Linked DNA regions of Homo sapiens: region 2 is linked to region 1. The links come from fine-mapping of genetic effects on gene expression. A gene starts in region 1. The other region holds a variant in brackets. All regions are shown on one strand. Distances are from middle to middle.

The links. PIP is the estimated chance that this variant, and not a neighbour inherited with it, causes the effect.
Region 2: its variant is fine-mapped to the expression of CHD5 in blood mononuclear cells (TOPMed, PIP above 0.99).

What each region holds. Positions count from the first base shown.
Region 1 is chr1:6,168,425-6,184,174 of GRCh38, reverse strand. CHD5 (chromodomain helicase DNA binding protein 5) reads left to right here and starts at 3,854. Exons shown (of 42, transcript NM_015557.3): 1 at 3,854-4,230. The coding sequence starts at 4,152. RefSeq lists enhancers at 4,597-5,096, 5,097-5,598.
Region 2 is chr1:6,144,363-6,155,013 of GRCh38, reverse strand. It overlaps CHD5 (chromodomain helicase DNA binding protein 5), which reads left to right. Exons shown (of 42, transcript NM_015557.3): 5 at 116-354; 6 at 2,478-2,602; 7 at 3,859-3,982; 8 at 5,602-5,768; 9 at 5,939-6,160; 10 at 8,143-8,349; 11 at 8,591-8,802. Among named protein-coding and RNA genes, the nearest start is that of CHD5, 31 kb to the left of the region's middle. The variant G/A (reference allele first, on the strand shown) is at 6,868.

The DNA of each region.
Region 1 (15,750 bases):
CACTTGATTTCCTGGAGGGTGATAAGGACCCTGGTGATGGGGAATAATGGTCCGGCTGTTGAAGTCATTGATGTCAGGGGAGCCTGGAATTTGGTGTTGACACCTGATTTCACTTTCCATTTGTACATGGGACTCAGACCCTTAAACTTGTCAAGTATTGTAAACCAAGACCTCCCACAGGAGAGGGGGACCTAGGATGTGGGACAGTTACAGATCTGGCAGTTCCAGGGGACAGACCATCTCCCCAGTAACCCTTGGACAGAATACTGGGGTGACGAGTCAGAAGCTGCAGGGTAGGGGCACCACGGCGGTGAGAGATGGGCCAGGTCCCTGAAGGAGAGCCTGGGTTGGCACCTGCCCAGGTTGTTCGCTGAGTCGTGGTGATGGGCCTGTATTTAGTGGAATAAACTGTGGGGTTGATTCTCTTTGAGGGAGAAGAGGGTAGAAGAGAGGCTTGGTGTGGGGATTTGCCATCCCTGCAAGGAGGTAGCCCTCCACCTACAGGAAGGAGGTGAGGACTGCCTGTTAAACGGTGCAATCATAGTGCTTATCTCTAGGAACAGGAAACTGAATTTCTCATCCAGCCATTTTCTTGTCTTTGGGATGGATTTGAGAATACACATTCTTTTTTTTCCCCCAGGCTATTTTGGGCCCAGCTAAAACAGTCTGTAAAGGCTGTGCTGACCAGCGGAGTGAGTTAGCTGCCACCATAGCTAGAACCCAGAGAACACCCATAAAACGTTCTCAGGCTTACACAAGGATTTTCTCAGGTTCAGGGCCATGGCCCAGGGCTGCCTTTTTGAGAAGCTCCTTCCTCCCCTGCAACCCCAACTGATTTGAATTCAGGTGGTGCAGGGTCCACACTTTCGGAAAAAGCCTTCAAGTGCAACGAAAGTCTTGGTGCAGCAGGTGGGCACTGAGCCTTCATTGCAGAGGACACTGCGGTCCTGAGTGACGCCGTTTCACCCCTGCCGAGGAGGAGGTGTGGGGCAGAGTTTTGATCTATGTGACTCGCTGTGAGGTGGTGTATGTACAAGCACTTCATTGCCCTTGAGAAGCTGGTGGTGCCAGGTGGCCACAGCGTGGATATGCATTGTTGAACGAAATGGCCTCAGGCAGGCCTTGGGGGTTCCTGGATGAGGAGTTCATTTAGTCCTGGAATGGAAATTGAGTATGGTATGTGCAGAAGACGATGAGCTTTTTCCACTCTGTTCTTGGAAAAAGTTTTTTTTTTTTCTATTTTTGAGACAGTCTCGCTCTGTCACCCAGGCTGGAGTGCAGTGGCGCAATCTTGGCTCACTGCAACCTCTGCCTCCTGGGTTGAAGCGAATCTCCTGCCTCACTCGCCCGAGCAGCTGGGATTACAGGCGCCCGCCACCATGCCCGGCTAATTTTTGTATTTTTAGTAGAGATGGGGTTTCTCCATGTTGGCCAGGCTGGTCTCGAACTCCTGACCTCAGGTGATCCATGACTGCCCGCCTCGGCATCCCAAAGTTCTGGGATTACAAGTGTGAGCCACTGCACCCAGCCGAAAAAAGTTTTTTCCTTGATGCTTTTGTAACCGGTATATTAAAAAATATTTTGATTTTGGAATTGTCACTGAGGTGTAATTATGAGCTCTATGATCAGCAAACATGAGAATCTTGTCTCCTAAAACAGTAACCTTAATGATAGGCTTGTTCTTGCAACGCAGAGTTGCAAGTTTCAGGGATTGCTTTTAACGTCATGCATTTTTGGTCCGTTGTCATTAAAATACCCATTTAATAGTTTAACAATAATAAGGGCTCACCTTTAAAAATGACTGGAGAGCCGGGCATGGTGGCTCACGCCTGTAATCCCAGCACTTTGGGAGGCCGAGGCAGGCGGATCACGAGGTCAGGAGATTGAGATCATCCTGGCCAACAGGGTGAAACTCTGTCTCTACCAAAATACAAAAAATTAGCCAGGTGTGGTGGTGCGCGCCTGTAGTCCCAGCTGCTACTGGGGAGGCTGAGGCAGGGGAATCGCTTGAACCCGGGAGGCGGAGATTTGCAGTGAGCTGAGATTGCGCCACTGCACCCCAGCCTGACGACAGACACCATCTCAACTCCCCCCCTTGAAAAAAAAAACCCAAAAAACCTGGAGATTTGTAGTAAAAAAATCCATTTGTTTCTAGCATTCCAGTTTTTGTTTCATTTTGCTTTTGGACATTAAATAATATTACCTAGTTGCAGTCATCGGGAAGAACAGGATGGGGAGAGGATTATGACTGATGAGCATCTCGGCTCTAATTTGTTGCCAGATTAAGCAGTTAGAACTGTTCTTTCTTGAACGATATCTTGACTTTCAGCCTCGCCTTGGGAATTGGAGCCAGGGTTAATGATGGGGGCGGCTTTCTGGTGATGAGAAGTATTGTAAATCAGAGTTTTTCTACCGAAGGGCAGGGGACCTTTGAAAGGGATTAGAGAGGTGTTGGGGGGCTGGTAACTGAGGGGTGGGCGTGTCAGCTTAGGGCTTTCTTCCCTTGTTGGTCACCATTCATGGAGGCAGTTGGTCTGGAAAGAACGAGGAAGAGGCAGGTTTGGTTCAAGCCTCGGTGATCTGGGGCTCCCCCTGGCTAGCTGCTCTGTGGGGAAACACGGCCTTGGGAGGGGAGGCCCTTTGGTTTCCTGGCCTGCTTCCCTGAAGAGTGTTCCTTTCCCCTTGCAGGCGGCCAGCACTGGGCTGACCCGGCTTCTCTATCTACAGCGTAGTTAAAGCGGATCTGGGAGATGGAGGGGTTCCCAACACCCCAGTCTTTGGTTCCAGAAGGCTGGACCGACCTCTCCTTGCCCAGGGATGAATGCAGAGGGTCTTTTGTTTGGGGTTTGCTGGCAATAAAATTGAACGGGAAGAAGGGAAACTGCTGCCGATCCTGCGTGTCTCAGGTGGGTTCCCCCAGTGCCCCTGCGAGGCAGTGAGAGGGGGCCCTCCCTTCACGGGCCTTCTGGGGTTAGAGAGCTGGCGGTCGGCCAGCCCCTGGAACTTTTGCGTTCTTAAGGTAGCTTTAAGACTTGCCGCCGCGGAGACTGGAGGCGCTCATTTAAAATTCCAGTCTTGCTCCCGAGGGCTTTGGCCTCCATCTTCACCTTTAACGACCGAGGGCTGGTGGCGGCGGCTCCTTCCTGCTCTGCGACAGGTGTCGCTTCTGAGCGGGAGTTTTGGGCACAGACATCGCAGATCCGCACCACCCCTAGGGGTCTGCATGGGTTTCAGCTGCACCCAGCCTGGAGGGGCTTTTTGGAAGGGGGCACGTGGGCGGTGGGAGCGGGGAAGCAGGTGAGGGGAGCCCGCCTGCGCGGATTTTTCTGCTGTAAATCAGACCCACAGTCTCCAGAGCGTCTTTTCCCCAAGTGTGGAACACATTTTTCTTCTAATCCTCTTTGGAGAGGGGGTTAGGAACGTGCCGAGGCCGGAGCCGGGAGCGGGGTGGGTCCCGGCGCCTGTGAACCGAGTGGGGGAGCGGGCCGCGCGCTGCCCTGAAGACCCTGCCTCCGCGCCCTTGGGGGCTCGGGGCCCAGCGCCTTCGCAGGCGAGCGGCGGCGGCTGGCTCTGCCCGGGGTGCGCGGGGGCGGTGTTTCCTCGCCTCCCCCTGCGCCCGGGCTCGCCAAGCCCCGACTGCCCGCTCGGCCGTCGGGTCCGCGGGCGCGCGGACGCCTCGACGGCTCCCCCTGCCGGGGCGCCCCCCGGTCCCCACCCTCACCCGGCGGCTCAGGACTAGTCCCCCAACTTGTTCTCTGCTGTTAACTAGTCGCGCTGCCGGAACGATGGGATGGGGTTGCCACAGCAACCAGACTGGACGTCACAATCCGGGCATGTGTGCCGCCCCCCCGCCGTGCCGCCGTGCCTCTGGCGCTGCCGCCGCCACCCTCGGCCGGCTGCGGGACTCGGGCTGCGGGGCGCGGTGGGAGGAGCGCCCGGGCTTTGCGGGGAGCAGGCTAAGGCGGCCGAGAGAAAGGGGGGTCGAGACGGGGGGGTGGAGGTTTGGGGGGGTGGGGGGGCAGGCGGCCGCCATCTTCTCGCCGAGGCCGCCTCGCCCGCCGCGCGCGCCGGTCCGGCAGCGCACGGGTTAAGGCTGGCACCGCGCCCGGCGGGAGGGGGGGCGCCCACCTCCCCTCCTCCCCGCGCCGGGCATGCGGGGCCCAGTGGGCACCGAGGAGGAGCTGCCGCGGCTGTTCGCCGAGGAGATGGAGAATGAGGACGAGATGTCAGGTGAGCGGGGCGCGGGTGCGCCTGGGGCCAGAGCGGCGGGGGCGCCGAGACGGGCCGGGCCCAGGGCGGAGCGCGGGCGGCGGGGGCGGCGCGGCCGGGCTGGCGCCTCGCAGGAGGGGCACCCGGGTTGCGGGGCTGCGCTCCCGCCCTGCTGGCGCCGCGCGGCCAAGGGCGAAGGCTGGGTGAGCGCCCGGGCCGGCGTGAGGGCGGCTAAGGGCGGGGTGCGATCCGGGCCCCCCGGGCGGCGACGCGGGCCAGGCGGGCCAGAGGACCGCGGGCCGGGGCCTGCGCTGGGGGGCGCGGCGCTGTCAGGGTCAGCCCGCGTGCCCTTGAAGGGGGCGGGAATCGCGCTAGCTCCCGGAGCGGCGCACCCCGCGCTCGCGTCCCGCCGCCGTGCGCCTCTGGCCTCGCTGCGGGCAGGCGGGACCCGGCCCCTGGCCCATGTCGGCCGCGGGGCGGGCTGGGTGGGGCCCAGAGAGGGGCGAGGACCGGCGGTGCTTGGGGACGCGTTGAGCGCCCAGGATGGGGCGGCTTCCCTCCCGGCCCAGGAGGACTCCGCTCTGGGACGCACGGGCTCGGACCCCTGCTCCTCTTTCCTGGCCTCTGTGCGCTGTGACCGCCGCTCCCAAGCACTTTACCCGGGCCGCCGGCGTCCTTCTGGCGCGACCTAGCGCCCGCCGCTGTCTCCAGCCTCACCATCGCCCAGGGTGGTGGCCGTTCCCAGCCCACCCTGCCTTGGCTACGGGCCTGACGCCCCAGGGCCACCGCCCCTGCCCCTACCATCTCTCTCCTTTTATCTCTCTCAGAATTTAGTATACACAGGGCTGTGCGCCAGGGGTTGCCTTGCGGGACAGTTCTTTAGTTAACTGCTCACCATTTGTTTGGGACGTTTTCCCTCCTGGCACAGCTGGGTAGGGCCCCACCCTGTCAGCCACCCTCCCTCCTTTCTGGGAGACTCTTACTTCTCGGCTTCCCTGCGCCAAGTCTGTGGCCTCTCTGGACTTCGGAGAGACTTGTGGGAGGCTGGAGGCCCTCCCGGGCCCAGGAACGTGCATCTGGCCCCTTCTGACTTCCAGGGGTGAGAAGACTCCACAAATGGACACCTCCAGCTCCTGTTGGAGGAAGCAGCCAGCGTCTTCTGGGGAGGGTATTCCCACCAGGTGGCCACACCCCCTGCCCCCTTCTGTTTGCTTGCTTGGTTAGTTGGTGGCTTTAATGCTGTCACTGAGCTCCTACAGGAGCCCGGCACTCACCTCGCCTGTTAGACAGGCCAAGTTGGCAGCGAGCGTGCTGGGGACGGGGAATAGGGGAGTCCTCTCTTGGGGTGGAGTTGCCTGGACAATAGTTGACTGTCATATCCTGGGTCCTTGGAATTAGACCCATTCTCCGGAGGGGAACTCTGAGGCCCCGCACAGGCACAAAAAAAAATCAGTGGCCATTTTCCACCTAGGAGGCTGGCTCCCCAGTAAGCCAGTTTACTGGTTTTCTCAGCAAGTTGTTTGTTATGGTGTTTGGGGTGTGGCCCTTTTGTGGGATCAGTGGCATTTCTGGGGTTGCACCGACCCGCTGGTGGAGTCCCCTGGCTGTCTTTCCCATCTTACACTCCGGCTCTCTCTGACTATGTGGGGACTTAGAGGTTGGGGAGGGGAAGAGGCCAGGGAAGGTGCCCCCAGTCTAGTAGGCACCCGACTCACTGCTTGGGCCAGAGAGGCGGGGCTCTGGTCATCCTGCCCACCACCCGTGCTCCCCCTCGGTGGGTTGGCCCCAGAGCCTCCAGGAGTGCCCCCAGAGCCCTGCAGAAGAGACGCCCTGCTCTGGCACCTCTGGCCTGGGGATTCTGTCCCCATCCATCAGCAAGGCCAGCTGCTCCACCTCCAGAGCCTTTCCAGGCTCCTGGCTTCTCTCCATGTTCTGGGTCCAAGCCTCTGTCCCCTCCTGCCGGTCCCCTCCAGGGCCTTCTACCCACTCCTTCTGACCACCCACTGCACAGCAGCTGGGGTCACCTCGTGAACCCAAGTCAGATCCCGACCCGCATGGCTCCAGTCGCCTCTGAAACCCTTGTCCCGGGTCCACTCCTGTACCCCTTTGTTCACAGCAGCCACGCTGGCCTCCTTGCTGCTTCTGGAACACTCCACGCTCCACGCTCCATCCTGCCATGGGGCCCTGGCTGTGACCTCTGCCTGACCTGCTCTTTCCTCTGCTCACCGCTGCCTCCTGGTCATTTAGGTCCCAGCTCGAATGTTATGATGGGGAGGGACACCCTTGCTAAGGGCCTTCCAGTCACTCTGAGACACATTGTCATGCTTTCTTTGGAAGAGATGGGGTCTTGCTGTGTTGCCCAAGCTGGATTTGAACTCCTGTGCTCAAGCGATCCTCCTGCCTCAACCTCCCTAGTAGCTGGGACTACATGCTTGTGTCACCACACCTCACATACTCGAAACGTTGTCATCAGTTTCCTCCTGGATCTGTGGGTTCCCCTTCGAATGTAACTCTCGATAACCTGCCATGCCCAGCACCTGAAACCATGCGTTCCTGAGAGATGGTTGTGGTTTCAGTGTCTGAGGGCTGGGACTCTCTAGGTCACCCCAGCTTCTGGCTGTGAAGACAGCCCTAGCCAGGCCTCCTGTCAAGTCGCACTGCTGGCCCCCCACTCACCCTGAGCTCTTCCTCATAGCCCCTATGCAGCCCTGAGTCCAAGCTCAGTGGCGGTGACCCCCAAAGACCAGAACCAGCTGGTTCCAAAAGATGGAAGTTTGTGGCTGGAGGAGCTAGTGTTTTGGAAGCTGTCATGATGATTTTTCAGTCTACGGCTATTAAACTCATGACTTGTCCGATCTTTTTTCTTTGACTCTGCTCATCTCCCACCTCCCCCTGGGAGTTGCTCACTCTCAGCAGTGAATTATTGTTTCCCGTGCAGTGATGGTGGGGAGGGGGAGGTTTGCCCTGGCCAGCTCTGGCATTGAGGCAGGTGTCTGAGCCAGCTTCTAGGAGGAAGGCAGGGCGGGTGCCTCTTCTGGTTGGGGGACCAGCAGTTGCCAGATTCTCCTGGGAGTTGGGGTGGCTGGTTGAAGCCAGGGGTCAAGAGCTGGTGGGATGAGGCCTTGGCTTCTAGCTCTGAGCATTAGCTGAGTGGTCTTGGACAAGCCAGGCAGCCCTCTCCTCGGTGTGCCCACTTGTAGTATGGGGACATAGCACTGGCTACCTCATAGAGGGTTATTATGAGGAACAGTGAGACAGTGCATGTGGAACATTAGGCCACAGTGCCCAGCACATGATAGGTGCTCAATAAACTGTGGCTGGTGTAGTTAGCACCAGCCAAGGAGGGCAGCTGTCCTGCCTTCTCCAAGGAAATGCTTCTGATACTTGCATCCTTAGCCAGTAAGCTCAGGGGAGTAGGAGCCTGGGTGGGAGGAGGGCTGTGAAGCCCAAGGTAGGGGTGGCAGGAAGCAGGAGAGGGCTTCAGAAAATGTGGCTCTCAGCCCTCTTAGGGCCACTGCTGGGCTGGCAAATTCCCTGCCTCATTGGCCCAGCTTTTCCTCAATCACAGACAAAGCTAGTGAGCCCAGAATGGGCAATGTCTGGACTAGGCACCGTTACCTCTCTGGCCCCAGTGACAATTGGCCCTAGATGTGTAAGTATCTTAGGCTTGCTTCCTCAGGTCCAGGGGCCAGGAGAGAGTGACAGTCATGATTCCCAAAAGGCCATGACATTTTAGCCTGCACCCCTACCCCTGTGGAAGCATGGTTTGGTAGGGGGGTCCCAGGGAGCCTGATTGTATTTAACATTCTTTTCTGGGAGGAGGGAGACAAAATGACCAGCACACTTTGCCCAGTGGCTTGGCCAGTGGGTTATTCATTGTCATTCCAAGTTGATCAGGTAATAGGATCCATCTATCATTTTATCAGTTCATTCAGTCGCTCACCCATCATCCATCCATCCATCTACCTACCCACCCACATCTACCCATCCACCTACAAAACCAACCAAGTAACCGTTCACCATCCGCCTATCAATCCATATCCATACCATATCCATCCATCCATCTGTTCTTCCTATCCACTATTCATCCATGCACTATTCGTCCATGCTTCCCACCATCCATCCATCCATCCATGCATCCATGTATCCATGTATCTACCTGCTCTCCCACATCTACCCGTCGACCCACAAAACCAACCAAGTAACCATTCACCATCCACCTATCTATCCATATGTATATCCATCCGTCCGTCCGTCCATCCATCCATCCATCCATCCATCCATTTGTTCTTGTTCTTCTTATCCACTATTCATCCATGCACTATCTGTCCATGCTTCCCACCATTCATTCATCCATCCTCCAATCCATCCATCCACCATTCATTCATCTGTCCATCCACCATCCACCCATCCACCATCCATCCATCTGCCCATCCACCATCCATCCATCTGCCCATCCACCATTCATGCTTCCATCCATTCATCCACCACCCACCATCCATCCATTCCTGTACCCACCATTCATCCATCTATCCACCCGTCATCCATCCATTCATCTATCCACCATCCATCCATGCATCCATCCACCATCCATCCATGCATCCATCCACCATCCACTCATCCATTCATCCACCATCCATTCATCCATCCACCATCCATTCATTCATCCATCCACCATCCATCCATGCATCCATCCATCCATCCACCCACCATCCATCCATCAATCCACAATCCAACCACGCATCCAACCACCATCCACTCATCCATTCATCCACCACTCATTCATCCACCCACCATCCGCCCACCATCCATCCATCTGCCATCCATCCATCCACCTATTGTCCATCTATTCATCAATCCACCATCCATCCATGCATCCATCCACCATCCACTCATCCATTCATCCACCATTCATCCACCCACCATCCATCCATCATCCATCCATTATCCATTCAGCCATCCATCTGCCATCCATCCATCCATCCATCCATCCTTCATCCACCATCCATCCATCCACCCACCCACCATCCATCCTTCATCCACCATCCATCCATCCACCCACCCACCATCTATCCATCCATCTATCCATTCATCTTTCATCCATCCATCCGTCATTCATCCATTCATCCATTTATCCATCCGTCCATCCTCCATCTTCCATCCACCATTCATCCATCCACCCACCATCTATCCATCAATTCATCATCCATCCATCAATTCACCATCTATCCACTTATTCACCATCCATCCACCATCCATTCATCCATCCACCCATCCACCATCCATCCTTCCACCCACCGTCTATCCATCAATTCATCATCCATCCATCTATTCACCATCTATCCACCATCCATTCGTCCATCCACCCATCCACCATCCATCCACTATCCACCCATCCACCATCCGTCCAGTGTCCATCCATCTGCCATCCATCCATCCATCCATCCATCCACCCACCATCCATCCATCTATCCATCCATCTACCCACCATCTATCCATCAATTCATCATCCATCAATCTATTCACCATCCATCCACCATGCATTCATCCATCCACCTATCCACCATCCATCCATTCACTATACAATTATCCGTCCACCCATCAGAGACTTCTGGAATATCTTCTCTGAGCTGGGTACTGAACACAATGTGTGTTGTCTAACTTTCTGGGCTTTTGCTTATCTCTGTGGCTCTGTCCTTATTTCACTCTCCTTCCCTGTCTCTCTCTCTCCCTCTGTCCCCATATCTGTCAGTTTTCGTCTCCCCTGAGGTCATGCCCCTGCCTCTCCCTTTCTGTCTGGCCGTTTTTCTCTCTTTTGTCCCTCCCTGTCCCCCCAGGTTGACTTCCCCTCTCACCATTCTGTCCTCCTCCTCCCCACCCATGCCCTGGGCCTCTCCCTGCTTTCCCTGCACCCCCAGGGTGACTCCCCCCAGGCCCCAGTCACTTGGGGTAAATGCCTCATCTATCCCCGTCTCTTCCCTCCACTCCCCACTCAGGACTGATGCTTTCTTTTGATGTGACACCAATGAGGTGATGTCTGGGTTTTGTTAAATGTCATAAATAAATTATGAATCCTCTCTTGGGCGGTGTACTGCCCCCCTTTGCCAGCATAAGCCCTGTCTCATGGGGGGAGGTTCGAGGACTAACGGCAGCCTGAGAACTCCTTGGCCAGCGTCTAGGGTGGCCCTGAGAACCTCTGGCCCAGCAGTGGCCAAACTAGAGACCGCTGCCCTCTGCCCTTCACCACTGCCGCCCTGACCCTCCTGGGTCTCGCTGGGCTCTGCCTGCCATTGCTGAGCCCCTGCAGGCATCGTGTGGGTCCTTTGCATTCACAGTTTTTACTTCTCCCCATAGCCCTGGGGGAAAGGCTGCCACATTAGGCCCATTTCACAGATGAAGAGAGAGGCTCAGTGGGGAGGGGACTTGCTGGTATCACCTCCAGGAGGGGTAGCTTGAAGCCTCTGCTGCCCCTGTTGCTCCCTCCTCCTGACCTCCTGGTGGCCTTGTTCTCTGCTTGTTGCTGGTTGGGGAGTCCAGGTGGGGAACAGAAATAGCCCCTCTCGGCCGGGCGCGGTGGCTCATGCCTGTAATCCCAGCACTTTGGGAGGCCGAGGCGGGTGGATCACGAGGTCAGGAGATCGAGACCATCCTGGCTAACATGGTGAAACCCTGGCTCTACTAAAAATACAAAAAATTAGCCGGGTGTGGTGGCGGACACCTGTAGTCCCAGCTACTTGGGAGGCTGAGGCAGGAGAATGGCGTGAACCTGGGAGGCGGAGCTTGCAGTGAGCCGAGATCGCGCCACTGCACTCCAGCCTGGGTGACAGAGCGAGAGTCCGTCTAAAAAAAAAAAAAAAGAAATAACGCCTCTCCCCAGGTCCTGGAGAGAGTGGTGGACATTGAGTGGGGTCCCTGTCCTTGGCAGGTTTGCCGGCCTTTGCAACCTGGTGATGGTGTTCTCGTCCCAGCTCCTGGCTTGGCCCCTGCAAATCCTTCAACCACCCAGAATCAGATGACCTAACTTTCGCTCCACAGTCACGCGCCTTCCCCTTGTTTTGATCACCTTGTGTTTGCCAAGTGCCCTGGCGGCTGCGTCCTTGCTCTGCTGCTGCCCCTCCCCAGAGGAGTGAGGGGCTGGAGCCTGGGTCTGGCAGAGCTGTGGGGCTGTGTGCAGGGGGACTAGTGTGGTGAACCAGCCTTGACCCCCTTGAGGGACCTGTGACCTGCCAGACCACAGACCAGCCTGAGTCACCTCAGTGTCCCCAGGGCATCCACCGAGCCGGTTTACACAGCGTGGGCTGTTTCAGTGGGAGGGTGCTGGGGGAGAGACTTCGCAAGGGGGTGGGCGCCCACTGCCTGTGTTCAAACAGTGGCAGCTTCACCACTGCCAGCTGTAGGACTGAGATGTAGGTAAATAATGAGGTCCTTTGAGCCTCAGTTTCCCAATCTGCAGATGGGGATAAGAATAGAACCCTGAGCCAGGTGTGGTGGTTGTGCGTGTTGTCCCAGCTGCTCAGGAGGCTGAGGTGGGAGGGTCGCTCGAGCCCAGGAGGTCGAGGCCTGCAGTGAGCCATGATCATAACACTGCACTCCAGCCAGCGACTCTGTCTCTAAAATAAATAAATAAATAAATAAAGCCCCAAACCAGAAAGAATAGTACCCCTCTCTGAGTTGCTGTGTTGAACTGATACAAATTAATCAGTCCTAGGTACTTTGGGCCTGGCACGAGCCTGGCAGGTGGTATGCAGTTATCACGACTGCTGCTATTGCAATGCGCTACCCTGAGAAGGGCCCACCTCATCGGCCTGGCCGCAGCCTGCAGTGGCTCAGCCTAGGCCAGCCTGGGGGTCCCACAGGGCTGAGCTGGCGCATACTGGGAGCTAGAGAGGGGCTGAGGGAGCTCTGGAGAAAGCAGCAGAAGGTGCCTCTCCTTCCTCTGGTCGACTTGAGCCCCACCCCGCCTCCACCCCCAGGAGGTGGGTGATCACAGGGTAATGGGTCTTAATTAGAGCAGGCTTGGATCCGTGGAGCCTCAGGCCCTGGAGGGTTAGGGCTGGTGCATGAGGGCACTGCCAGGTGGGCCAGGAGGGTGGTGGGGCAGCCACGAGGGGCCAGGAGCTGGCAGGACAAGGAGTTCTGAGGTGAGGTTGCTCCTCCCTGGAGCCCCTCACCCGGGACGGGCAGGATGCCACCTTAACACTGGCTGCATGCTCTGCGTCTTGGAACCCTCTGGGCCTCTGCTCTGTCCCCACCAGATGGAGCCATAGGGAGGAGGGACTGGTGGGCTCAAGGGCACAGGCTGGGCTTGGGGAAAGGCTGACCGTGCAGTTGCTTGTATGGTGACCCCCAGATCTGGTTTTAGAAAGCTCAGGACCTGCTGCGGGAGCAGAGAGTGTCCAAGGGCAGAAAGGGGCTGGGGCTTGGCTGAAGACGGGAGCGTGTGAGGTGTTGGGGGGGGCAGTGTCATAGAGAATCAGGCGTGTGGTGACCTCAGGGCCACCCACCAGAAGCCATCTGGGGAGAGGAAGGGCCCATCAGAGACAGGGTTAGGCAGGGCTGAGTCCCCGTCTCCGTGTGCCAGTTCCAGAGCCTTCTCAGAGGTGGGTTTCACCAGGCAGAGGCCCTGGGCTGTGAGGTCTTCTGGGAACGGAGCTGGGGTCTGTCCATGGGCAGAGGGTCTGGGGCCTTGTCCTCGAAGGCCTGTTCTGGGCGTGGGTTAGGGCCAGAGCAGGGGTCCCCCTTTGTCCTCCCCTTACCCACGGGCAGATCCCAGACTTCCTTCCAGAACTTCTGGCAGCCACCTGTGCATACCCTCATCCGTTCTGTTGGTCAGGCCACCAGTCAGTGACCATGTGCTGGGCTGGGTTTCCTAAGTCTGGGACCACCCTGCCGGAAGGGGACAGCTGGGAGGAAGCAGGAGGGAGAGGCCCCCCCTCGAGATTGCATCAGCCAGAGCCCGTTACATAAGCAGTGCTGGGCACCGCCAGGGTGTGGGGGTGGCTCTGCCCAGGCGGTCTCCTGCGGTGGCGGGGGAGGCGGAGGCCCGGTGGCAGAGCGGGCAGTTGTGGACTGGCATCCCATCGGCTGCCCCACCACAGACAGCTCCCCGCCAGCCCTGCCACTGCCCCACCGACACCTGCTCTGCAGGACGACTCCGAGGGGGTCCCCGTGCACGTTTTCAGCTGGTTTGAAAAATCCCCGCCTTTCCACACTAGTGATCAGAGGAATGGGGTGGGGTCAGCCGGAGCAGCCCAGCCCCTGCCCCTGGCTGCTTGGGGCCTCACCCACATAAACCCACCTGGGGCGGCCCTTGCTGCTGGCTCCCCTGTGTGCCCTAGCCCTCCACAGGGTGCCCTCCCTGTGTGGGAGCCCCAAGCACCTGGCCACCCTTGAGGGAGGCCCTGGTGCAGAGAGGCACCAAGACAGTGGTGCAGCCCCCACCTTCCACTGGTGCAAACACCTTCCACTGGTGCACATTGGCCCCGTGGGATGCAAGGGTGGGAGGGGCGTCCGCTCAGCCACCAGAGCCCCGGTGCCCCCGAGGAGTGGGGACAGTGGGGCTAAAGCTGCACCCATAGTGTGGGCCATGGGAGCCCCAGAGACCCAGGGTAGGAGCCCTCCTGTCCCCCTTTCCCCGCTTAGGACTCTCTGGGGGTCCCAGGCCGGGCGGTGGGGGCCTGTGTGGAGGGTGACAGGTGAGTGTTGGGTGCACATGCATGTCTGTGCGTCTGCATGTGGCGAGTGTGTCTGAGCGTGTGGGCCACACTGGGGGTCGCCTCGAAGCCCTTTTGGTGACCCAGGGGTCACCAGGGTCACCAGACTGCCTGGGTTCGAACCTGGCTCCAACACTGCCAGCTGTAGGTGGTTATGATCAAAAACTTCCTCGGGGGAAGGGGCTCTCTGTCTCTAAACTTGATCCAGCAGGGACACTCTGCCCCCTTCCTGGGTGAAAGCCTCCTGGTGGCCCCAGGACCTCTCGTCCTCCGCGGGGTCCCACTGGAGGCAACCCTCAGGCTCTGAGTGACACTCCCTGTTGTGTCTCCACTGTCACAGAAGGTCAGGCCTGGGGTGTCCATGGCAGAGGGTCTGAGGCTGAGGGGCCTCTCTTTGCCCCTCAGCTTCCCCTGAGTGCTCCTGAGTGCACAGGGGATGGTGGAGAGCGAGTAGGACAAGCTGGCTGGGGCGCTGGGGCCGCAGGCTGGCATGAAGGGCCGGCTCTCTCGTGGGCCCTTCTAGAGGACTCTTGGAGGTTCTTCCCTTCTGGAAGCCTCCTTTGCCCCCACGGGCAGAAGTGTCTCTACTTTGGATGGTTTGATTCTTGCTGCTGTGCCTGCCAAGAGGACCCTCCCCACAGCCCCTCCACAGCTCATATCTGGTGCGTGGGAACTCCTTTTCTCTATCCTGATTTCCCAGATGAGCGTCAGACCCCAGGCTACTGCCGTCCCAGCAGGGGTCTCACGTCACACCCCCCAGGACATGTGGCAGCCCTTCCTCTGGGTTGGAGGTTGAGGGAGGCAGACCTGGGACTGTGGCCAGTGTCGTCAAACATACTCCCTTCCCGAGCCTGCCCGGCCAGGGCCCCCTCGGCCTTTCGAGTCAGTGCAGGTGAGGTGAGTCCTGAACACCCACGTGTGCTGGGCACGGCGTCTCTCTGTGGACTGTCACAGCTTTCTAGTGCCCAGCTGGAATGCGCTTGGCTTCCCGTTGTGAGTGTGTTGGAGGTGGGGGAGTGCGGACCTGTGTGCCTGTGTGTGCACAGGTGCGGGATCCACGAGGAGATACGATATGGTCTTGGATTCTCCATTAAGGTGGCATCCTCTCAAACCCATGGGGTATCCTGGCATCTTCCTTGCTGAGTTTGTCCTGCAAACCCCTGGGGTCCTCAGGTTTGGGGCTTGAGTGTCCCTGTGCTCCACAATTCTCTCTCTCTCTTTTTTTTTTTTTTTTTTGATGGAGTCTCACTCTGTTGCCCAGGCTGGAGGGCAGTTGTGCGATCCCAGCTCACTGCAACCTCCACCTCCTGGGTTTGAGCGATTCTCCAGCCTCAGCCTCCCGAATAGTTGGAATTACAGGCGCCCACCACCACGCCCAGCTAATTTTTGTATTTTTAGTAGAGACGGGGTTTCATCGTGTTGGCCAGGCTGGTCTCAGACTCCTGGCCTCTGGTTATCTGCTCGCCTCAGCCTCCCAAAGTGTTGGGATTACAGGCGTGAGCCACTGTGCCTGGCAGGTCCAGCATTCTCGAGCCACCTCCTGGCCACACTGTGGTCCTCTCTCTGGAGGGAGAGATGGGCCTCACTGAGGTCTGTACTCTGCTCTATCAGCCCCAACTCCTTCCTGGTAGAGATGCTCCGTTTCTCCGGCAGTGATGGCAACAAGGCAATTCTGTTTGTTGTTCATGGAGGTTCAGTTTTCTGAACACTGTCTTATCAGGGGCAGGTGGTTATTGTCCCATTTACAGAGGAGGGAAGGAAAGGCCTGGAGGTGAGGTGATGTCACACAGTCCCTAGAGCTGGGGCTCCTGTCCTGTGTTCTCTCACT
Region 2 (10,651 bases), 27 kb after region 1:
CTGGGGCTGCTGCCATAGATCGCACATGTGGCAGAGGGGTGGGCCCTGCCGGGGGTCGGGTGGGCCTCTCATCTCACCTGGCCTTGCCCTCACCCTCCTGCCTCTCCCCCTACAGGCCACTCATTGCCAAGAAGAACCCGAAGATCCCCATGTCCAAAATGATGACCGTCCTGGGTGCCAAGTGGCGGGAGTTCAGCGCCAACAACCCCTTCAAGGGCAGCTCCGCGGCAGCAGCGGCGGCGGCGGTGGCTGCGGCTGTAGAGACGGTCACCATCTCCCCTCCGCTAGCCGTCAGCCCCCCGCAGGTGCCCCAGCCTGTGCCTATCCGCAAGGCCAAGACCAAGGAGGGCAAAGGTAAGGCTGGGGTTGGGTGGGCACCTAGTCCCGCTGGGAAGAGGTCCCTTTCAGACCCTATAGGAGAAGCCACGGGGCAGACGCGGGCAGGGAGGGGCAGCTGGGGTGCTCCTAATGGAGGGCTCTGTGCCTGTGTGACCTTGGATTGCCCGGTCCTTTCTCAGCAGTGAGGCAGCATCGTCGCCTCTTTTGTGCCTGACTCCCTTTTGGGGTTGGTGGAGAAGCAGAGGCGATGATGTGGGCAGAGGTCTGGGAGGTTTGAGCCTGGCCAGCCAGGAGGTGCCCCCGACGTGGGCCTGGAGGGAGGGCGGGACCAGAGGTACGCAGAGTGGAGCCGCTCCAGCCTGGGTTTCTGGGAGTTGGCAGGCTCTTGGGTTTGAGCCTGTGCCGTTTCTGGGGAGGAGGAGGAGGCCCCAGTCGAGCCCGTCTCTTCTTCTTGTCTGCATACCCACTGTGTGCAGGGTTGTTCTCCAGGCCCTCGGCCAATGTGGAGCATGGAGGCCCTGCCCCTCCAGCTTTAGGATCCGGGAAGCAGGCAGGAGTTGGAGGGACTGGGCACGGCCAGGTCTCGCTTCCCAGGGAGGCTGTTCTGGGACAGGCCTGGAAGGAGATCGAGATCCAAATTCTGCCTCAGTGGCAGGGCGTCTGGGTGGGGAGGATGCAGGCAGCAGAGGCCCCCTGTGACTTGAAGGCCCTGGGGAGGGAGCTTTCTGGGTGCAGGTTTCTGGCCTTTTGGAGGCTGGGGATGTTGATCTCCCCAGGGCTGTCAGTCACCTGCAGCTCAGCTTTCCTGGGTGCCCTGATTTGTTTTGTTTTGTTTTGTTTTGTTTTGACAGACTCTCACTCTGTCTCCCAGGCTGGAGTGCAGTGGCACGATCTCTGCACACTGCAACCTCCGCCTCCTGGGTTCAAGCAATTCTCCTGCCTCAGCCTCCTGAGTAGCTGGGATTACAGGAGTGCATCACCACACCTGGCTAATTTTTTGTATTTTTAGTAGAGACGGGGTTTCACCGTGTTGGCCAGGCTGGTCTCAGAACTCCTGACCTCAGGTGATCTGCCCACCTCGGCCTCCCAAAGTGCTGGGATTGCAGGTGTGAGCCACCGCGTCTGGCTGATTTGGGTTTTGATGGAAGGGGCTGAGGGGGCTCCGGGGATCCCTTCTTTCAGCCCCAAGGAGCTTTAGTTTCTGGGGTTCTGTGTCTGGCATCACCATGCCAAGTCTCTGAAGGGAGCCTGGTGGGTGAAGTGACAAGGGTCAGAGTCTGTTCCCTGTCCTGCTCCATCTGTCTGGGCCATCAGGATCTCGGGAGGGGCTCCTGGCCCGCCCCTGTCTGCCCAGCCTGCCTTGTTTTCTCATTTCCTCTCGCGCTCCAGCTGCTGAGCTATCGATTCCATGAGCTGCTTATTCAGAGCTTGGAAAATTGAAATAGATTTTCCGCGGCGCCATGGAGGGTGCAGCTGGGCTCCTAGCTCCATGTCCGTGTGTGTGGTGTGGCCAGAGGACGGCCTGGGGAGAGGCTGCCTCTGTGGGGTGTGCATCCCTGCCTCCAGGCCCCCCTTCCTTCTTGGGTCATTACTCCCCAGGTAGCTAATTGCCCTGTGGCCAGCTCCATAAAAACAGCCTCAGCCCTGCTGGCCCTTGCTGGGGTTGACTGGCAGAGGTGGGGCAGTCTTGGGTGGGACCAGCATTGCCTGGCTGGCAGGTGGGAAAAGGCCTTTTGGCTCCAAGACATCCTTTGGGGGCTCAGGCATGGACCACAGGTGGGCGGCTGTGCCTTCAGTGGCCCTGCTGGCTGTGGGGGATGGCTAGTGCCTCCTTTCAGTGGTTGGAGACGGTATAGGGGATCCTCCCAAAAGGGCCACATTTCTGTGGGTCATGGACAAGGGGCAGCAAGGCGGTCAGGGCAGCCTCCAGTCAGAGCCGTCATCTGGTTTTTGCCTCACTTGCTGTGTGATTTTAAGCAAGGGGTTTACCTCTCCAAGCCTCAGGCATCTCATCTGAAACGGGGTGATGGTAGAAATGACCCTTTCCTTATTGGGTAACCGAGAGCTCAGTGAGATGATGGCAGGAAGCAGGCCGTCAGTGGTGGCAGTGGTTGGCTATCATCACTGCTGTTTTTCAGGGCCTGGAGTGAGGAAGAAGATCAAAGGCTCCAAAGATGGGAAGAAAAAGGGCAAAGGGAAAAAGACGGCCGGGCTCAAGTTCCGCTTCGGGGGGATCAGCAACAAGAGGAAGAAAGGCTCCTCGGTGAGTGTGTGCGTGTGTGCGCGTGTGTGTGCATTTGCATGCATGTGTGTCTGCACATGAGCACGCAAGGGCCAGGCGAGGGCCTTCAGTTCATTACAAACTAGCTGGGGCAGGTCGCACCCCTCCACTATTCTCCTTCCATCCTACATGCAGGTGTGCTGGGCCTCAGTTTCTCCATTTGTGTGATGAGGAGTTTAGATTGAATCCTTCCAAGGGCCCTTCTAGCCTGGACTCTGGGCAGGGAGTGCTCCCCTGGCTCACCCTCCTGAGTGGGAGCTCAGTCCTGGCTCCTGCTGTCCACAGCTGCAACTCCATTTGGGCAGGAGGTGGAGGGATCTGTCCTGGTGGGGCCTGGCCGCCCAGCACCCAGGTCTGCTCTCGGGGGGAGTAGTTGGGTGGGGGCTGGACCCTAGAGAAGTGGTATGTGGGTAGGATCAGGCTGGCTGGAGCCCCAGTTACCTCCTCCTGTCCTCAGGGCCAGCTCTGGGCCCAGGCTCAGACACTAAGCCCAGGTCTTACTCAGCCTTGGGGCCCCCCTTTCTCTGTGAGTGTGAGGGGCATTCGCCCTCCTCACCCCCACAGGTAGCTGCCTCCCTCACCTCACCCCAGCCCTGCGGTGGGTGGAGTTGGAAGCTCTTTCCCTGCACCATGGCAGGAGCCAGTGTTAGGTCTGGAGGGGAGCATGGAGAGAAGGTGTGGCCCGCCCTGGAGCTGACGGTCCAGTTCAGCTTAGCAGATATTTGTTGAGCACATACTGTGTACCAGGCCCGCTGCTCAGCCACAGTGGGCCGTGGTCCTGTAGCACTCGTCACCTGGCAGGCATGTTTGCTGGTGGAGAGCCCGTGATGTACCAGTCAGACAGGACAGGCCAGACCTGGCACACACGCAGCCACAGTAGGTCCAGTAAAGGAGAGATCTGGGAAGACTTCTTGGAGGAGGTGTCCCTAGGGCTGCCCCTTGAAGGATGTTTAGGAGTTTGGCAGGATGGAGGGCAAGGCCTGGGAAGCTGTTCAGAGGTGGAAATTGTGGGAAGTGTCTGAGGCTGGAGAGCAGGGCTCTGGGTAGGCGGTGGGACATCAGGCTGGACAGGCAGGCTGTAATGTGAGGTTTTCAGCTGTGTTGGGGGCTGAGATGAATCACAGAGAGCACTGTGTCTCCAGAGCCTCTTCCGTGCTTTGTCCCACCCCACACTGCCTGGGCCAGCGAAGCCTTCTGGGTGAAGCCCTGGGATCACAGGACCCTGTCTTCCCCTGCAGAGTGAAGAAGATGAGAGGGAGGAGTCGGACTTCGACAGCGCCAGCATCCACAGTGCCTCCGTGCGCTCCGAATGCTCTGCAGCCCTGGGCAAGAAGAGCAAGAGGAGGCGCAAGAAGAAGAGGAGTATGACTCCCCTTCCAGAGAGTTCTTGGCCTGCTGGGTGGATGTAGTGGGGCACGAGTAGGACTCCCCATCTGGACGGTTCTCGGCCTGCCGGGTGGATGTGCGGGGCATGGAACCTCCCCGTGGGAAGCAGGGGGAGGGCATCCTCATGTCTCAGCCAGGTGGGGCCCCTGTGTTTCCCACACGGCCCTGGTTTCTACTGTCTGGGGAGGGGCATCCTGTCCCAGTAAGGAAAGAACAAGGAACCTATGGTGGGAGCTACCCCAGGGCATTTGCATTAGCAGTGTGGTGACTGGAGAGGGAAGTGCTTCATCTCATCGCCATCCTCCCTTCAGTCACCCCCCACCCACTTAACACCCATCTTTACCTCACCTTCCTTCCCATCCCTCCTTCTCCCTCCTTCCCTCAGTCCCTTCTTTTTATCCATCCATCCTTCATCCATCCAGCCATTCATCCATCATCCATCATCAATCCATTTGTCCATCCATCCGTCAGCTATCCATCCACCATCCATCCATCCATCCATTCATCCATCCTTTTGTCCATCCGTCCGTCCGTCCGTCCGTCCATCCATCCATCCATCCATCCATCCATCCATCCTATCATCCATCCATCCACTTGTCCATCCATCCATCCATCCATCCATCCATCCATCCATCCATCCTTTTGTCCATCCATCCATCTGTCCATCCATTCATCCATCCCATCCATCCATCCACTTGTCCATTCATCCATCATCCATTTGTCCATCCATCCATCATCCATCCATCCATTGTCCATCCGTTATCCATTCATTTGTCCATCCATTATCCATTCATTGGTTCATCCATCCATCTACCACTCTGTCCATCCATCATCCATTTGTCCATCCATCATCCATTTGTCCACCCATCCATCCATTTGTTCATTCATCTATCCATCCTTTTGTCCATCTATCCATCCATTTGTCCATCTATGCATCCATCCTTCCATTTGTCCATCCATTACTCATCCATTTGCCCATCCATCCATCCATCCATCCATCCATCCATTTGTCCATCCATCCATCATCCATTCATTTGCCCATCCATTCATCCATCCATTTGGTTTATCCATATATCCATCCATTCTTTTGTCCATTCATCCATCTATACATCCATCTATCCATCCACTTGTCCATCCATCCATCCATCCATCATCCGTCCATTTGTCCATTCATCATCCATCCATCCTTCCATCCACCTATCCATCCATCCATTTGTCCATCCATCCATCCATCCATCAGTCCACCCATTTCCATTTGTCCATCCATTTGTCCATTCATCATCCATCCATCCATCCATTTGTCCATCCATTCATCTATCCATCCATTTGTCTATCCATCCATCATCCATTTATCCATTCATCTTTCTACCCATCCACCCACTCTCCTACCCTTCCTTCCTTCCTTCTTTCCTTTTATCCATCTTCTATCTCCTCACCCTTTTACCACCTCAACCATCAGTCTATTCACCCACCCACCTTTCCATCCACCCTCTATTAGACATCTACTCTGTGCCTGTCTGGCCTGGGGCGATGCAGTTGGTTGTGTGCTGGGAGTGTGGATGAGGACTTCCATGACTGCCTCTCCCCTACCCTAGTTGATGATGGTGACGGCTATGAGACAGACCACCAGGATTACTGTGAGGTGTGCCAGCAGGGTGGGGAGATCATCCTGTGCGACACCTGCCCGAGGGCCTACCATCTCGTATGCCTGGACCCAGAGCTGGAGAAGGCTCCCGAGGGCAAGTGGAGCTGCCCCCACTGTGTAAGCCTTGGCAGAGCCCCGGGCTGGGGGCGGGGCCACGCCTGGCTCCCCCACCCCTGTGCCCTCATTTGGGGGCAGAATGCGGGGAGATGCTGTAGGGGAGGGAGGGAGTCGGGCCTGGTGGAGCGGGGACCCCGCCCAGGGTGCCTCCACCTGGCCTCCTCCCCCAGGAGAAGGAGGGGATCCAGTGGGAGCCGAAGGACGACGACGATGAAGAGGAGGAGGGCGGCTGCGAGGAGGAGGAGGACGACCACATGGAGTTCTGCCGCGTGTGCAAGGACGGGGGCGAGCTGCTCTGCTGCGACGCCTGCCCCTCCTCCTACCACCTGCATTGCCTCAACCCGCCGCTGCCCGAGATCCCAAACGGTGAATGGCTCTGCCCGCGCTGTACTGTGAGTGTTCCGCCCGCCCCGCGCCGGACGCCCCGCCCCACCCCAGGAACAGGCCCCGCCCCCAGGGGAAGGCCTGCCCTCCTCAAAAGGCCCCGCCCCTGCCGGCTCCTGCCCCGCCTCGGTAGCCGATCCCGCAAAGCTTCGCCCGCGCTGCTCGAGACCCCGTCCACAATAGCTTCCTCGCGCCCTTCTCCGCGTCTGACTCCCCTAGAGACGGGAGGCATGAGTGTTAGGGAAAGGCAGACAGGTGTGGTGATCATGCCAACACCGCGACCACTGTTCAGTGACCACGTGCTCTGCAAGGGCTCCACATCCATCATAGTGTCCTTTAACATTACTGAGTATTCTGGCACCAGGCATGTTACTCCCTTTTTAGATGAGAAAACTGATGCTCAGGGAAGCAGAGTGACCTGCCTAAGGCCACACAAGGGCAGAACTATCCACTCAAATTCAGGTTCCTGGAGCCACCCCAGACCTGGCTCCTGTTCCAAGGCTGGGGATAGGGAGAGGGCAGGAGGCTTCTAGGGCAGGAGGCTCCTAGGGCGGGAGCCTCAGTTTCTACAGGAAGAGGGGCACCCCCCATCCGTCACCCCCCAGTCACAGTAGACATCGGAAGGCCCCTTGCTCTGAGCTGTCTGTCCTGCCCCCTGTGGTGCCAGATCCTCCACCCCTCAGGTCCTGGGCTGTGCCTCCTTTAGCCCTGGGCC[G/A]TCCTGTGTGCATTGTGCGTGTGTATGTGTGTGCGTGCATCCGTGCGCATACTTGTCTGTGTCTGTGTAGGGGCCAGGGGAGGACCCTTTTGAGGGGTGCAGCCTTCTGTGCTTTCCTAGGATTGATGGAAGGCCCTGGGGATGGGAGGGGGGCAGGAGTGGGGTTCCTCTCAGCTTCTTCCCTGAGGGGCTGGGATGGGGGTAGGAGGGTCCATGGCCTGGGTAGGAAGGGTCCCCTCTTCCACTCCCCCAAGAGCCAGTGGAGGAGCCTTTCCTGCCTCCCATGTCCTCCTCCTCCTCCTCTGCCTCTCGGCCTTTGCTGTCACCAAGGCCAAAGGAAGGCTGGCTGTGTGGTGTACCTTGCACCTCCAGAATGCCTTCAGGTGTGATGTGGCACCACAGATCTGGTAGGTGGAGGAAGGGGTGGGCCATTTTACAGATGGGAAAGCAGGCTCTGGAGGCTTGGATGAGTTTCCGAGGACAGGTAGTAGCAAAGCTGGGACCTGCTATCCCCACCAGAGCTGTCTCCCTGAATCAGTCACCCCCGACCCTGTCCAGTCAGACAGCACCGCCTCCTTGGAGGGCCAAGGCTGCTCCCACCCATCTCAGGGCCCGAGTGGTGTGGTTTGTGGCTGTTGTATTTCTTGCCTTTGCCAGCCAGCAGCTCACTGTCACCCTAGCATCTGTCAGGGCCCCTGCAGTGTGTCTGTGGGCTGCCAGAGATGGGGCCTCATTGTCCCAGCCTAGACGCACGGTGCCTGGGTGCAGCCCTGCCCCGGGTGAGGGATGGTGGATGGGGCTGCCGTGTCCCTGGGCTCCAGCACAGGGCTCATGCTCCCTGAGTGCTTGGGGATCACACAGTGATGTGACCTCTTTTCAGGGGGCAATGGGAAGACCTAAGGTAGGGGAAGTCCAGAATCTCATGTTCTGCTCCCTGCTCTGCTGTCCCTTGCCGAGTGGGCCTCAGTTTCCCCCTCTGTCCTATGCACATGGCAGTCTCACCTACGCTGGCTCAGATATTCTGGGTGCCGATAAGTTCACCATTGAGTGAAAGGGCCACGTGGTCTCACAGACCCCCACTGCCCATCTCCTGTGTGCATGACCCATGCGGCTCCTGGGGACGGGGTGGATGTCATGGCGTCACCGTGGTACTGTTCTGACTTGGGGGCAGTGGCACTGATGGGAGGGAGCCTGCATGGCAGCCTGCTGTCATGGGAGCCTCAGGGTGGGGCCCTGCAGCTGAGCCCCACCTTGGGGACCCTTCTCTGTCCACAGTGCCCCCCACTGAAGGGCAAAGTCCAGCGGATTCTACACTGGAGGTGGACGGAGCCCCCTGCCCCCTTCATGGTGGGGCTGCCGGGGCCTGACGTGGAGCCCAGCCTCCCTCCACCTAAGCCCCTGGAGGGCATCCCTGAGAGAGAGTTCTTTGTCAAGTGGGCAGGGCTGTCCTACTGGCATTGCTCCTGGGTGAAGGAGCTACAGGTGAGTGCCCGGGAGGGTGGCTGTGCTAAGGCCCGGGACCTGGTGAGCCCTGGACCCTCCTGGGCTGGCGGGAAGGGGCTGAAGCGCCTCTGACTGAGGGGTGCTGTTGGGAGTTGGGGTGGTGCTGAGCGGGAGGATTGTCCTGCCTGGGACCTGGGCTGGGGCTAGAGGAGCTGGGTAGGGAGATGCAGGGGACCATGGCCCATCTCCCTTCTGTGACTTTGTGCCGCTCCATGAGCAGCTGGAGCTGTACCACACGGTGATGTATCGCAACTACCAAAGAAAGAACGACATGGATGAGCCGCCCCCCTTTGACTACGGCTCTGGGGATGAAGACGGCAAGAGCGAGAAGAGGAAGAACAAGGACCCCCTCTATGCCAAGATGGAGGAGCGCTTCTACCGCTATGGCATCAAGCCAGAGTGGATGATGATTCACCGAATCCTGAACCATAGGTGTGTGCCTGCAGGCGGCCACCCTGCCCATCGCTGGGGCCGGGCCACGTCAGCTTCTTTGCCCTGTAAAATGGGTGCAGCGCAGGGTGCCAGGGCCCTTGCTTTGGGGCTGCCGTGCAGAACCACATGTGGGCACAGCAGGGGCACAAGGAAGGGCCCAGGGTTCCCAGTGCTGGAGATCTGCCTGACCTGCTAGAGGGGCCGTCCCATGCATGCCGGCACACTCATGCATACGTGTTCACACCCCTGGGGCGTCGGGACCCTCATGCTGGGTTAGTGCTTGATACCAGCAAGAGGGTTCTGAGGACGAGGGACGCCCGAGGTGTGGGAGTATGTCCACATTTCCCCCGCGTTTGTAACAGCAGCTGGCTGTACTGAGCACTGCCTACCCTGGGAGGGAGGCGTCTTACTTTCACCTCTGTTTTACTGATGTGAGAATAGGCACAGCAAGGTTAAGTCGCCAGAATCACACAGCCACGGGGTGGAGCTGGGATTTGAACCCCATGCTTTCTGACTGCAGGACCTGCTTTCTTAGCTACTGTTGCACCCCCCAGTGCCCCAGCAGCAGCTCTTCCTGGAGCAGTCTGGCAGTTCCCTGGGATGCCTTAGCAATCAGAGGCTGCAGGAGGCTGGCACAAAGAGCCAGAGGCAGGAGGCCCGTGGGCTTTGGTTTTGATTTGGTGGGTGGTGGGAATGCCTGCTGATTCTTGAGTTGAGGTGCTTGAGAACTGGTGGTGGCTGACAGATGGGCCTTGGGGTGGGGCCCAGAGTACCTGCTGCCTGGTGGCAGCTTGGAGCTTGTGCTCCCCATCCCAGCTACCCTGTGGCCTCTGTTTTTGAGGGGCTTAGGATCGGTGGCCTCTGACACTCAGTGCTTCTGGCTTCAGGCAGCTGTTGGGTAGAGCAGAGGTTAAAAGCCTGAGCCAGATGTTCAGATTTCAATCCCGGTTCCCATCTGCTGAGCTTTGAGGCCCTTTTAGGGAACAGGCTGCTGCACGGGTGACAGGAGCTTGCCAGAGGCTGGCTGTGGGTGGTCTTCAGTACGAGGGTCGCGGAATTTGAAAAACTGCCCCCCTTCAACTATGGGACACCCCCCTTTTCCTCCCCAGGCCTCCCTGAGAATGACCTTCAAGGGTCAGTTCCTGTGGGAACCTGAGCCCGGCAATGAATTGGCCCATGGTTTTCTACCTTTACTAAATTACATGCTAAAAATATACATGGTAGTTTTTCTCTCTGCCCCAAAGTGGGGCAGGTGAATCTCCCCCAGATTTGTTCCCCCAATCTGCAAAACAATCAATTATGTATGGGAAAACAAACAAACATCGGTTGCCGTGGTAACGGGATCGGTTTTTCTCTTAATGTTCCCAGGCCCGCAGCAGCCGCTGCTCACCGGGTCTGTGTGCCTCCTCGGCACTGCTGTGTGGGGTAGTCAAGCCCCAGCCCGGCCCTCCAGCACTCCTCTGGCCTGGTTGCCTTAGCCTGGGTGGGTGGGAGGCCCTAAAGACCCTCCCAGTGGCCAGAATCAAGCTGTGTGCTGCTGGGCTTGGTCACTGGGTCTTTGTGTCCCCAGAAGAGACCACCTCACACGCAGGAATTGCATCCTTATCTACTTTGCAGAGATGACTCCTCACCCTACGTGGGCACTGCACAAGTCCTTTGCGTATTTTAAGTTAGAAAACTGAGTCCATTGGCAGGAAGGAGAACTTTCCAACTTAGAAATCCAGAACTCCTGTGAAAATCCAGACCCTGTGACAAATGGGATTCATCCCTGCCACAGAGGCTGCAAAGGATGTGGGAGGCTGGCTCATTGCTCCTCTGTTAGCTGGCCTCCGTGTCCCTCTCCAGCTCT